Homo sapiens: one gene and its partner. The protein of the gene in region 2 interacts with the protein of the main gene of each other region in a pairwise test. Each region holds a gene or a part of one and is shown on either strand. Other genes may lie near its edges.

Region 1 (2,640 bases), on a different chromosome or scaffold from region 2:
TTACTACAGGAGCCAACTAGTAAGAATGGCCTCCTCTTAGACGGTACAGGAGAAGAATTTAGATATCTTTAAGTGTATCCAAATGTCTATACTCATGAAAAGGCATAAAAGATGAATACTTCACATTTAGTATATTTTTCAAATTTTGGACTGTAATTTATAATTGTCCAAACTATGCATGATTTGGGGGGCATGGAGGGTAGACATACAAAAATCTCTTCACTCAACAAATATTTTGGAGTTCTTACTATATGCCAGGCACTGTGATGATGCTAGCACACAGCCCACAAACTAATAGAAATTATGATTTAGCATGAAACCTAAGTAAGCAAATATAATCAAGTATAGGGTCTGTGATGTTACAGGACATGATGGGAGTAACAGTAATAGGATCTAAGTCACATTGGAGTGTCCTAATGTTTCCTAGTGGAAGTAATCACTGAATGCAGACTAAAAGATGAGCAAAAGGTAGATCCCATAAATCTCTGCATGTTTGTGAAAGGTCAATGTGAGGAAGTATAGTGTAGTGATCAAGAACTCAGGCTCAGGACTTCTGTTGCTGACCCAGAGGGTATAACAGGGACTGGAAAGGCTCTTTTGCCTCAATCAATCAATCAATCAATCAATCAATCAGGTAGATACTATATATATAAAGCAATGGTTTTCAACACCCTGGAAATCAGGCAACAAAGGATAGTGGTCCCTGGGGTGGGGTGGGGAAGAGTAAGCTCCATGATTACCCCAGTGTTATGGACTGAAGCTCTAATTCTAGTACCTCAGAAAGTGACTATATTTGCAGATAAGGCCTTTAAAGAGGTAATTAAGGTAAAATAAGGTCATGTGGGTGAGCCCTAATCCAATATGACTGGTGTCCTTATAAGAAGAGGAAATCTGGCCACAGAGAGGAAACCAGAAATGTGAGCAAGGAGGAAAAATCATCTGAGGACACAGCAGGAAGGTGGGCATCTGCAAGCCAAGGAGAGGGGCCTTAGAAGAAAGCAGCCTGCTGACACCTTGATCTTAGACTTCTAGCCTCTAGAATTGTGAGGAAACAAATTTCTGTTGTTTAAGCCACCTAGTCTTTGGAATTTTGTTATGGCATCTGTATTGGGCTGTTCTTGCATTGCTATAAAGAAATACCTGAGACTGGGTAATTTATAAAGAAAAGAGGTTTAATTGCCTCACAGTTCTGCAGGCTGTATAGGAAGCTGCTGCCAGCATCTTCTCAGATTCTGGGGAGGCCTCATGAAGTTTACAATCATGGCAGAAGGTGAGGTGGTAGCAGGCATGCCGCATGGCGTATGCAGGAGTGGTGGAGGTGGTGCTACACACTTCTAAACAACCAGATCTCCTGTGAACTCAGAGCAAGCACTCACTTATCACCAAAGGGATGGTCCAAGACATACATAAGGGATCCACCACTATGATCCAAATACCTTCCACCAGCCCCAACTCCAACACTGCGGATGACATTTCAACATGAGATTTGGGTGGGGACGAATATCTAAACTATATTAGTATCCCTCTAATATGCCAGCTTATTGCCTTAACAGAATTTCGAGGCCATGGTGAAGGGAGACATTACCTGGCTGACTCACTGAGTTAAAAGGATAGAGCTAAGAGTTCGAGAAAATGCAGCTAGAGTTCATAGACCAGAGTATCAGAGAAGAGAGTGGTGCATGGAAAGCTCTGGAGATATGCGGAGGGTGCCCCACACCAAGCAGAGTACTGACTGGCACATGCATGTGAGAAGACTACCAGAGACAGGGGAAAAAGCCATCGGGAAGGATTAAACAGTATCCAGCATTCTCATAGGGCCTACAATAGTACAGAATCCCATCAGGCAGACTGGAAAATCACTTAATTCATTATCTGCAAAATTTATCACCAGCAGAACACACTACAACCAATATTAAAAAAAAAAAAAAAAAAAAAAAACTCATCTGGCAGAAAAAAAAGAGACCAGATAGAAATATGGATCTATAAACAAATGACATAGTAACGACATGAGTACATATGATACATACTTTTCCTATTATTTAAATGTATTTAAAATCTAATGAATTAAAAATAGCAAAATCTTGCAGGGCTTATAATACATGTATAGGCAAAATGTATGACAAAAACAGCATAAAAGCCAGATGAAAGGGAATGAAAAAACACATTTGTAGGTTCTTATATATGAAGTATAATACTACCTGAAGGTAGACTATGATAAATTTAAGACACATACAGTAACCTAAAAATAACCACTAAAATAATAAAAGTTATACCTAATACAAAAGAGTTACATCTAATACACCACAAAGAGATGTAAAATGAAATCATGTAAAATTGTCTATCAATTCAAAAGAAGGCAAAAGAAGAAAATAGGAACAATGTACAGACAGAACAAATAAAACACAGCAAGATAAAAGACTCAAATATATCAATAATCCTACTCAAATGTCTACATGCTAAACACACCATTAAAAGATGCAGATTGCCAACTGAATAAAAAAACAAGACCTACCTATACTTTGTTTAAATTTCTTATAAATATTTTAAATATAAGGACAAATATAGTTAAAATTAAAAGGATTAAAAAATATATATATGGGCAGGCATGGTGGCTCATGCCTGTAATCCCAGCAGTTTGGG
Region 2 (3,500 bases):
AAACTATGGGATCTCTACCTCTTCTGTGCCATCAACTCCTTTGGTGGTCTGACAAGATTTATGGACCCTTTCTCAGAATGTTTTAAAATAAAGAAACAAACAGCATTACAAAGGATAGTGACTTTACTTACATAGTCAATAAAAAGCTGCATTATAGTCACATGTGCTTTTTCAATGCATTAGATAGCAAGTTCTAGTGGAGGACCTAGTAACAGCTATATCAGAAGGAGTGAGGAGTGTAAAGACTGTTTGCCATATCTGAAACAACTGCAATAGGTTATGAGAGTGTAGGATTGAAGATACAGAAAAAAGCCACAAGTGTTTCTAATACTACTATGATGTTAGTGTAGAAAATCCTTACTTAATGTCATCAATGGGTTCTTGGAAACTGTGACTTTAAATGAAACGTTATAATGGAACCAATTTTTTTTCTCATCAATGTTTTAAAGAAAGGATGTTATTCAAGGACCTGCTGTACCTCATTCTGCTTAAAGCCGAAGTTTCCAAGAACCTATCCTGATGTTAAGTGAGGACTTAACTGTATGAGATTCCCCAACTCCTAACTGATGGCAGTGCCAAGTTTCAGTTAGAAAATACCGAACCCCTGATTAGACTTTCTGGGTAGCCAGCTTGCAAGTTCATGAATATCCAAATGTCTCCTGAACGCCTTAAGAGCAGACTGGGAGAGAAATCCGTCTCTCCCTTTATCACTTATGCTCATGGCTTTCTTCCACTGACTCTGAAGAGAAAGGGAAAAGGAAAAACTCTAGGGTTTTTAAAGGACCTATACTTATTTAAAAACTTCTTGTTTTATTCTTACAGCCCAAATCATTAACCCTCGTGTTCTGAGTGATAGGGGGAAATGCTAAGGGGAGTCAGAGCCTGGTTATCAGCATTTTGGATGACCATATATTTTCTCCCCGTTTCACTATCTTTAAGATGGGAAAAGTAATTCCAGTGGGATTTATTGTGACCAGTTAAACACAGAATTCCTGGAGAAGTAATTAGATGACAGTTTTAAATTGTTATTTGTAATTCTGTTTTGGTAGTAAAGGCTGCAGAGGTGATGGTGAATAGGGTGGGTAGTTTCTGATAATGGGCTTGCCTTTGACCTAAATGTAGGTAGGCTGGGTGAGGTGGCTTGCACCTGTAATCCCAGCACTTTGGGAGGCTGAGGTGAGAGGATTGCTTGAGCTCGAGACCAGCTGGGCAACCCAGTGAGATCCCGTCTCTATAAAAAAAAAAAAATTAAAGCTGTAGGTAAATGACTAAGATAAGTCTCTTCTACAGGTATCTTTCCTGAGACTCACCGTCCACTCCTTCTCCAAAAGGTTGGTACTTCACTGATAGACCTTTAGTTTTAGGATTTGTACTGACGTAAATAATGCTGGGACCTTTTAAGGGCCATAGCTCCTGTAACTGGCAGTAGTTAAATCCTCTTCCTTGTGAATTTCTATTAATGAAGTTACTTTTTCCCTTCTTAGGCAACTAAAGCAGAGGCAGTGGCCCCTACGTAAACCCAAAACCAATCCTAAGAATAAGAGATCAACAAATATTTGGAGAAATTACAGCTATGGAAAGATCTGTGTCACAAGCTTGATGTTTGAACAAATTAGGATCCTACTCTAAACTTGAATATATCAGAGTTAAAGTTTTAGGGATTTAGTGAATTGTAGAAAAGTAATCTTAGATGGAATTAGAAATAGATTTGTCTTCCTTGAGAGAAGAATGCGGGTAGGCAAAACAAAATGCCAAGTACCAAACCATTCAGTAGCAGGAGATTTGGCTAAAGATTTAGTTCCTAGTATAAAACCTTTTGCCCCGGTGAGGATCTTCCTCTGGGTTCTTGAGCTTTACCTCCACTTATTCCCCTCCAGCTACTCAAAGATGGAGGTGTGCTGTCACCCATCCTCACACGACTGATGAACTTCTTTGTATTCTCTCGAGGGTAAGTGTCACTGTCAAAGATTGTGGCCTAGAGCAATGTCGTGAAAAGTTGCTGCCATTACAATTCTGGGCCAAATCCTAAGGCTTGATATTTTAAAGCAAAGGTGTTGGCCGCTTGCCAGGGAAGTAGAAGGAATTCATAAATCACTTATGGGTCAGACTGCATGGCCCAGACTGCATGGCCTCTGAGGTTCCAGCCATATTGAACATTCTGAGTTCTCCTCACACTTATCTTCCTGCGTTTTGGACTCTTTCAGTCTCACCCCAGTCTTTGGGCCGTATACTCGGCCCTCTGAGAGTGAGCTGTGGGACATGTGGGCAGGGATCCGCAACAATGACGGGAACTTAGTCATTGACAGGTAAGAAGTTACCCTTTGCTTTGGTTTCCAGAGACGTGTTTTTGTGGAGAGTGGGGATTGCTTGTTCTGTTCCTTGCTGGCTTATTCCCTATCACAGGAAGGCTGATGATGACCTATGGGGCAAACCAAAAAGTCATGGTCTATATGAAGAAAGAAATAGAAAATAAGAGTGAAACTGGACTCTTTGTTAGTATTAAATGCTTCAAAGTATTGAATCATGGTTGTGAAAGTAGCCTAGTGCCTCCCTCAAGGTACAAGGCTCTTCCTTTTGCCTATCTTTCTGCAGCAACGGGGAGTGAGAGGGCAGACTTCTCTTTCTCTGTCTTGTACAAAGAATTCCCATGCCTTGGTTCAAATGAGAATGTAGACACTTTCACAAGGGACCCAGAGGTGGTGATAGCTGTAACTACTTGGGATAAGACTCTGACTTCTAGCCACCTGGCTCAGTGTAGCTTCCAGTGTTTTTACTGATGGCTTTGCTGGGGATTGTATGTTAGAGGGAGCCAATCCTCCCACCCTCTCCTAAGCCCCAACAGGATCCCTGAATATTTCATTTTAGTATTAAAAAACTGAAGAACAATTAAGACTGTCTTTTAAAATTATATTTTCCTTTCCAAAAAGTAAATACTATTTGTAAGATGAGATATTTGAGGTTCACAAAAATAACTGTCCTGGAGTTGCCAGGCAGAATGAGTAGAATACATGAGTTTGAGTTCTAAAATGTGGCAGTGGTGTCTTACGCTGGAGAAAGAGGAATCCTCTCCATTTTATCTGTGGTCAGATGAAGCTTTGTGCTCATCAACATCTACACTTAGAATTTTGAAGTAGATGTCGGCTGGGCACAGTGGCTCACGCCTGTAATTTGAGCACTTTGGGAGGCCAAGGTGGGCGAATCATATGAGGTCAGGAGTTTAGAGACCAGCCTGGCCAACATGATGAAACCCCGTGTCTACTAAAAATACAAAAATTAGCCAGTAATTCCAGCTACTCAGGAGGCTGAGGCACAAGAATTGCTTGAGCCCAGGAAGCGGAGGTTGCAGTGAACTGAGATCATGCCACTGCACTTCAGCCTGGGCACAGAGTGAGACTCCGTCTCAAAAAAAAAAAAAGAAAAAAAAAAAGAAGTAGATGTCAACACAGAAGATCATGTGTTACAATCCTCTTATTTTAAAAATGAGGAGGCTAGCCAGGTCC

Evidence for each region.
Region 1: the proteins of MEST (region 2) and SNX7 interact in a two-hybrid assay, tested with the Homo sapiens proteins (one large-scale study listed by IntAct).

What each region holds. Positions count from the first base shown.
Region 1 is NC_000001.11:98,755,721-98,758,360, reverse strand, and holds part of SNX7 (sorting nexin-7), read right to left. Parts: intron 1-2,640. UniProt on the Homo sapiens protein: Involved in the regulation of endocytosis and in several stages of intracellular trafficking. Together with SNX4, involved in autophagosome assembly by regulating trafficking and recycling of phospholipid scramblase ATG9A.
Region 2 is NC_000007.14:130,498,585-130,502,084, forward strand, and holds part of MEST (mesoderm-specific transcript homolog protein), read left to right. Parts: intron 1-1,290; coding exon 1,291-1,331; intron 1,332-1,877; coding exon 1,878-1,948; intron 1,949-2,204; coding exon 2,205-2,306; intron 2,307-3,500.